Linked DNA regions of Homo sapiens: region 2 is linked to region 1. Evidence: fine-mapped expression QTL. A gene starts in region 1. The other region holds a variant in brackets. All regions are shown on one strand. Distances are between the middles of the regions. Region 1 holds the start of LINC00237 (long intergenic non-protein coding RNA 237). Region 2 overlaps RALGAPA2 (Ral GTPase activating protein catalytic subunit alpha 2).

The links. PIP is the estimated chance that this variant, and not a neighbour inherited with it, causes the effect.
Region 2: its variant is fine-mapped to the expression of LINC00237 in spinal cord (GTEx, PIP above 0.99).

The regions. Positions count from the first base shown.
Region 1 is chr20:21,104,910-21,107,817 of GRCh38, forward strand. It overlaps LINC00237 (long intergenic non-protein coding RNA 237), which reads right to left and starts at 1,449. Exons shown (of 2, transcript NR_190203.1): 1 at 1,362-1,449.
Region 2 is chr20:20,435,383-20,438,290 of GRCh38, forward strand. The region is part of intron 37 of RALGAPA2 (Ral GTPase activating protein catalytic subunit alpha 2); the gene reads right to left. Among named protein-coding and RNA genes, the nearest start is that of INSM1, 69 kb to the left of the region's middle. The variant C/T (reference allele first, on the strand shown) is at 1,562.

The DNA.
Region 1 (2,908 bases):
TTGGTTGTTCATGATTTTCCCCTTCCTTGGTGTTACCTCCAAATATCTGGAGAAGCTGGGAGAGAAATGGTCATGGCTGCATATCCAAGGAGCCCAACCTAGGAAGCTTCCATCTTTGTCTAGGAGGAAGGTTCGGCCACTGCACCTGGAGCCCGAAGCACCGGACACCAGGCGCGCCGTTCTGGCGCTCTGCAGGGCCTCTCTGGGTGAAGGAAAGCGGGCAGCCTGGGTTCAGCCCACCGGGTCCCCTTTCGAATGCCATTTCCCAGCTGAAAATCCAGCCAGCACAGCCTGGACGCCGAGCCCTCTGGAGCCCTGGTCAGGACGCTTTAATTTTCACCCTCCCGCTCTGGGTCTGAACAACCCCCCCGTCCCCCGCCCCCCACCCCAAGGTGTTGTTTCCTAGGGTCTTCTGGGGACATCCCTACCTGTCGAGGGCCTGCCCTCCTCGGGCTAAAAGTTCAGCCCTTCGACAGAGCCATGGAATAAGAGGCGACTCTCCCTGTGTCCCGCAAGTGGTTTCTCGAGGTACCCCTCTGAGGCTGCAGCCCCCGGAGCAGACCTGGCTCTGCATAGCAGCAAAAGCAACCGCCTACCTGGGCCGGGGCAGGACTGTGCCGCGGCGGCAGGGACAGTGTGAGCGCCGCCGGCCCCCTCACCCGGCGAGGGCCCTGCGCTCACACTTCTTCCAGGGGAAGGAGTGGCCACGCCTGAGCCCCCCTAAACGACCTCTTCAGGAGAAAAGAGTGCCGGCCAGGAGTCCCTCCAGTAACCTCAGTTTAGATCGGGTTTTCGCGCCTCCCCTAGGAATCCGGCTGGAAACCCCGGAGACTCTGCGCCTAGAGTTTTGCGGGCGTCTCTCTGCCTCCCCGCAGCTTCCGGCTCTCGCAGGCTTCATCCACTCCCTCTTCCCCCGGACCTGCCTGAACCCCGCCGAGCACTAGGCAAGGCCGGGCTCTGCGGGCTGGGGAAAAGAAGGGGCTTGGGGTGGCCCAACCCGACCGCCACCTCGGCCCGGCCTGCGGGGAAACCCCACAAAGTCAAGGCGCGGGGCGGGGTCGGGGGGATGGGATCCAGAGAGAGACTCAGAGGGGCGCCCCTTCCCCCCAGGGGTCTCCGAATCCTAGGGACTCTCTAAGCCCCCGTGGCAGAGAAAAGAGGAATTTTTAAAAACAAATCTTCCCTTGCCTGAGGCCATTTTCCAGCCTTCCACGCGCCTTTGCCGGGGAAAGAGTCGATGACTCGCCCTGCTCATCGGCTCAGACCAGAGCTACCCTGAGCCCACACCTCTCCTCCTCTCTGCAAGACATCCCTTCCGCCACCCCCAGTCCCGCCGTCCTCCCCTCTCCAGACCCACTGACCTTGGGAAGGCGCAGACCCACCGCTCGCCAAGCCTCGCCCCGCACTGTGCACGGGAAGAGGGGGCTCCGCGCGCAGCCCAGTCCGGTTAGCTGGTCGGCGTCGGCGGGGCTGCCGAGGTGGCGCAGAGCTCCCCTCCCCCACGCCTTATAATTTAATCACACGCGATATTAAATTATCAAGCTGCTCATTAATCATCACGCGAGTTATTGGGACTGAACACGCCGCCGCGTGTTTTGACAGCCCAGAACCATTCGCGGGGGTCGGGGTGTGTCTGGGTTTGGGGGCTGGGGGATGTCTAGCCACTCTAGAGAAACACTGCGAGCCCCACGCGGGCTGGTGGAGCCTCTTGCCTGGAAAAAGATGTGGAAACGCGCAGGCTGGGCGTCAGAGTTTGGTTGAGGGTCTGTCAAAAGCCCAAACGTAACCCTCCCAGGCCACTTTCCTTAATATTTGGATTTTGATCACGATGATTAAGACAGCCGGTGATGTGTAATCAACAGCATCTTAATTTGCAGTTTTTCAGGAGGGTGAATTTGACCTGACTCTGAGCATCTTCATTGCCCAGTGTGGACGGTGTGAAGTTAATGCGGTTGAAATACAGAGGGAATCAGATCACCGATGTCATTTCAAAGAATAACTTTTCCCTGATTCAAAGGGTCTCTCTTGCCTTTCACATACTACAAATGTGGAGAGAGAGACATAAAGAGTTTTAAAAATTAAATTCTTAATTTGGGGTATTCATTTTTAAAATGATTTACGCGTTTCGCCCTGGAGTGGTTAGAACCTGGTTTTATTTTCTAGGGTTTTATTTTTCCTTTTCTCTATTTCAATTAAAGGAATCTCTTTAAATGAATAAACCAATTAAATGAAACTTCTTATGATTTCATTCCATACAATAGAAGAAACAAATGATCATTAAAAGTTGTCTTAGTGTTACAAAGGAGAGTAATTAATTCTCAGCATTCACACCAGCAAAACGATAAACAAGAGGGAAAACATCCCCCAACTCTGGAAGAGGTGGTGTAGATGTGAATCTGCAAACCAACTTAAAAATATATATACCTAGTTTGAAATTAGTCTTTGGAAGAAATGTAATTCCCAAATTAAGTCTTTTGCCACCTTAGCATAAACCAAGGCTAGTTTTTAGCGGAAGACCAGTTCCTCTGGGCAAGAGCTGTGAATTTCAATAAGTTGGCAAGCCAAGTTTTCTACACAAATCAGAGATTAAATCAAGTTGTTTTCCCTTTTTAAAATATAAAGTATAAACAAATACCAAACTGGGGCATGTTCCAAATCCTCTGCAGCTAAATTGCATTTAACTTTTCCACCAGAAAATGTGATCAATTTAGTAAGCCAATAAGTACATAAATACTACCCCCGCTTATGTTTTATCGCAGAATATCATTGATAATATTAAATGTGTCCAAGACCGCTCATGAGTTATTTTCTCTTCTGTTAATCTGTTGTCTGCATTTTTCTACTCTGTCCACTAACACACAAAGAGATGGGTATCAAAACTCAACACACACACATACTGCTAGGTGAA
Region 2 (2,908 bases), 670 kb before region 1:
CAGCTGAGGAAAAGGATGCATAACAGCATCTACAGTTAAGGGCACTGTCATTTGGGGGAGAAAAATTTACATAAATGCAGCTAATACAGAGCAAAAAAGGAAGGACAGTAAAGAATGAACTCTTGAATAAAGTGTACGGAATCATATTATATCTGAAGGAGAAGAGTAGGGAACAGGGGTCACACCCTTACTAGAATGTTGGCTGCTGCAGAGCTGACAATGCTGTGCCATAGCAAAGTGGGAGGAGCATGTGCGTCTCTCCACTTGGGGGCAGGATAAAGATGTGGCACAGTGTGATTTTTAGCAAAGAAGGAGGCAGGCTGATGCTGCCCCGGAGTCCCAGTGTGGTGAAAAGAGGTGGCTCTGTTCTCTTCACGAAGGGAACGAGGGACCCCGACACTGGGATGTGTCTGTGGACACTGCCACAGGCAGGAACTGCACTAGATCTATGGCCTTTCAGGGACTGCTCTGGATTGAGCTCACATGGACAAGAATCAAGATTAGTCTGTGAGCAGGATTAGTAAAAATTCTTAGAAATTTATTGTTCTAAGTTCTGTTTAAATGAACAATCCCATAAATACTGTAGCTGCTCAAGTCTTGAAATGGGGTGAGTTATGTATCAAGTTGAATCATACAAAATTGCTGATTTTTAACCTGCAAAAGCAGCATTTCATATGGTCTAACCCTAATACCAGACAGTAACAGATTACTTGGAAAAGCCCGCTGGGCCCCAGACATTTCCCCGTCTGTCTGCCTAAATCACAGACCTGCCTGTGGACATTGCTCCCTCTCTCTCAGGCCACTTTGCTCCTCAGGAAATACAGCAGCCTCCAGCATACAGTGCTTCCAGGACCCTTCAAATAAAACCCCACGAAGAAACCAGAGCTACTGAAATCCTTAGTACTTCCATGTTCCAAGTAAATCAGATCAAGTTCTCTACACATGTGCTTTGCATGAGTTTTCTAAAAAGATTTCAGTCTATTTAAATACCATCCCTACCAGATAAAACAATTTAATAGGGTAGATCTTTCTTTGCTCAAACACGTTACTTATCTATTCCTTCTTCCAATGCCATCCCTAATATGAAGAAAAAACTGGTAGTGGTTGATAAAGTGTATTTAAGCGTCACGGCAATACATGAGTAAGACGGCAAAGTGTCCCTGCCATCAGCCGGTCCTGGGCCCTGGCCAGGACACAAAGGCATAGAACACCAGCCCAGGGAAGCCATCTCACTTCCCCTGGGGAGACAAACACTGGATGGCTCACGAAGGCTTCAATGTGTTGACACTGTCGTCTCTGCTGCCATAAGGTTGGAGGCCGAAGAGTAATCTAAATAGAAAAAAGAATAAAACCCTGGCCTAGTCGGGTGAGTAGCGTTCTGGGAGAGGCAATGCGTCAAGCCCCAGGCTCCTGGAAGGGAGGGAGGCAGGAAACTGCCATTTTGACTGCCCACTACGTCCTGCCAGACACACTCATGTGCCATGCCTGATCTAATCCCTGCCACGGGCGGGCGGCCAGGGCGCCACCTCATCCGAGCCTGTGCATTGGCCATCATGGCAGC[C/T]GCACCGGGGAGACCAAGCTCCGGGGCTAACTAACTGACGGGAGGCTCCGAGCTCTGAATGCTGCCGGTGGGACCTTGGCAAGGTCCCCATCCTCCCTGGGTCCTGTGGCCTCCTCTGCACAATGGCATCTGAACACAAACCATCTGTTCACATGGGAATACATAATATGTATAATTTCATAAATGTTAGCTCAATAAATGTTGGCATTATTAATTCAAACAGAAGTTCACCTCCTGTAAATGGGGAAATTAAGGAGACTGGCAACCACAAACCACTCTGAACGTCCTGAAGACCGCCTGGTCACTGAGGCACACATGACTCTGCACCCTCTGACATGCCACGTCTCATCTGGCCACAAATCCCCATCAATCCAGAACCTGACCACTTGTCACCACCACACGCCACCATCCAGGCCACGCCATTGTCATTTCGTTCCTGGATTATGGCTGTGGCCTCCTACCTCTTCTGGCCTCTGTACCCAGCAGCAGGAGGCTTTCAGGGATGGTGCCGTCCTCCGTTCAGCCTTCAGATGGCTCCCACCTCACAGGAAAAGCGGAAGTCCTTACTGTGGCTGGCAAGGCCCTGCCCCACTGGGTGCCTGCCCCTGCTGTCACCTCTGTGGTGTGGAGCCCTTCCCACACTTCACACACACGATGTGTGTGTGCTGTGCCCTCTGCCTGGGATGCTCTTCCAAGACCCCTGTCTGGCTGCCTCCCTCACCTCCTTCAGGTCTTTGCTCAAATGCCAGCTTTTCTCAGGAGGCACTGTGATCCAGACCCTTCATTCTCCTTTTCTTGGCTTCATTTTTCTCCTCAGTACTCACCATGCTCTAACTTCCCTGGATTTTCATGATCTAGCTTGCTTGCTGTCAGCCTCTTCCACTGGAATGGAAGTTCCATGCGGGCAGGAACTGTGGTATATCTAGCACCCAGAGAACAGGCCCCATACCTACAGAGTCTCAGAAACCACTCTCGCAGGCTAGCTGGCTGAAGGAACAACACTGCAGTGGTTCCAGTGGATCCTGACTCCGTGGTTCTTATGAATCCCGCAAAGAGTGGTTCTTAATATGGGTCAATGGACCCCATGGGGATCTTCTGGGTGATGATCAAAATTCCAGGGGTCCCTGAACTTGGATGGTAAAAAAGCACATCTTCATTCTCACTATCCTATCCTCTAGCTGAAATGAAACATTTCTTTCCGTTATAAATAGGAACATACCACAGTGATACTACCTGTGACTGTGTCACCAGTAGAAATCAGATATTTTCATGACGCATTATATTGTTACCAGTGTCTCAAAATATTGATTCTGCTCATTACTGCTTCAAAATTATAATGATTATTGG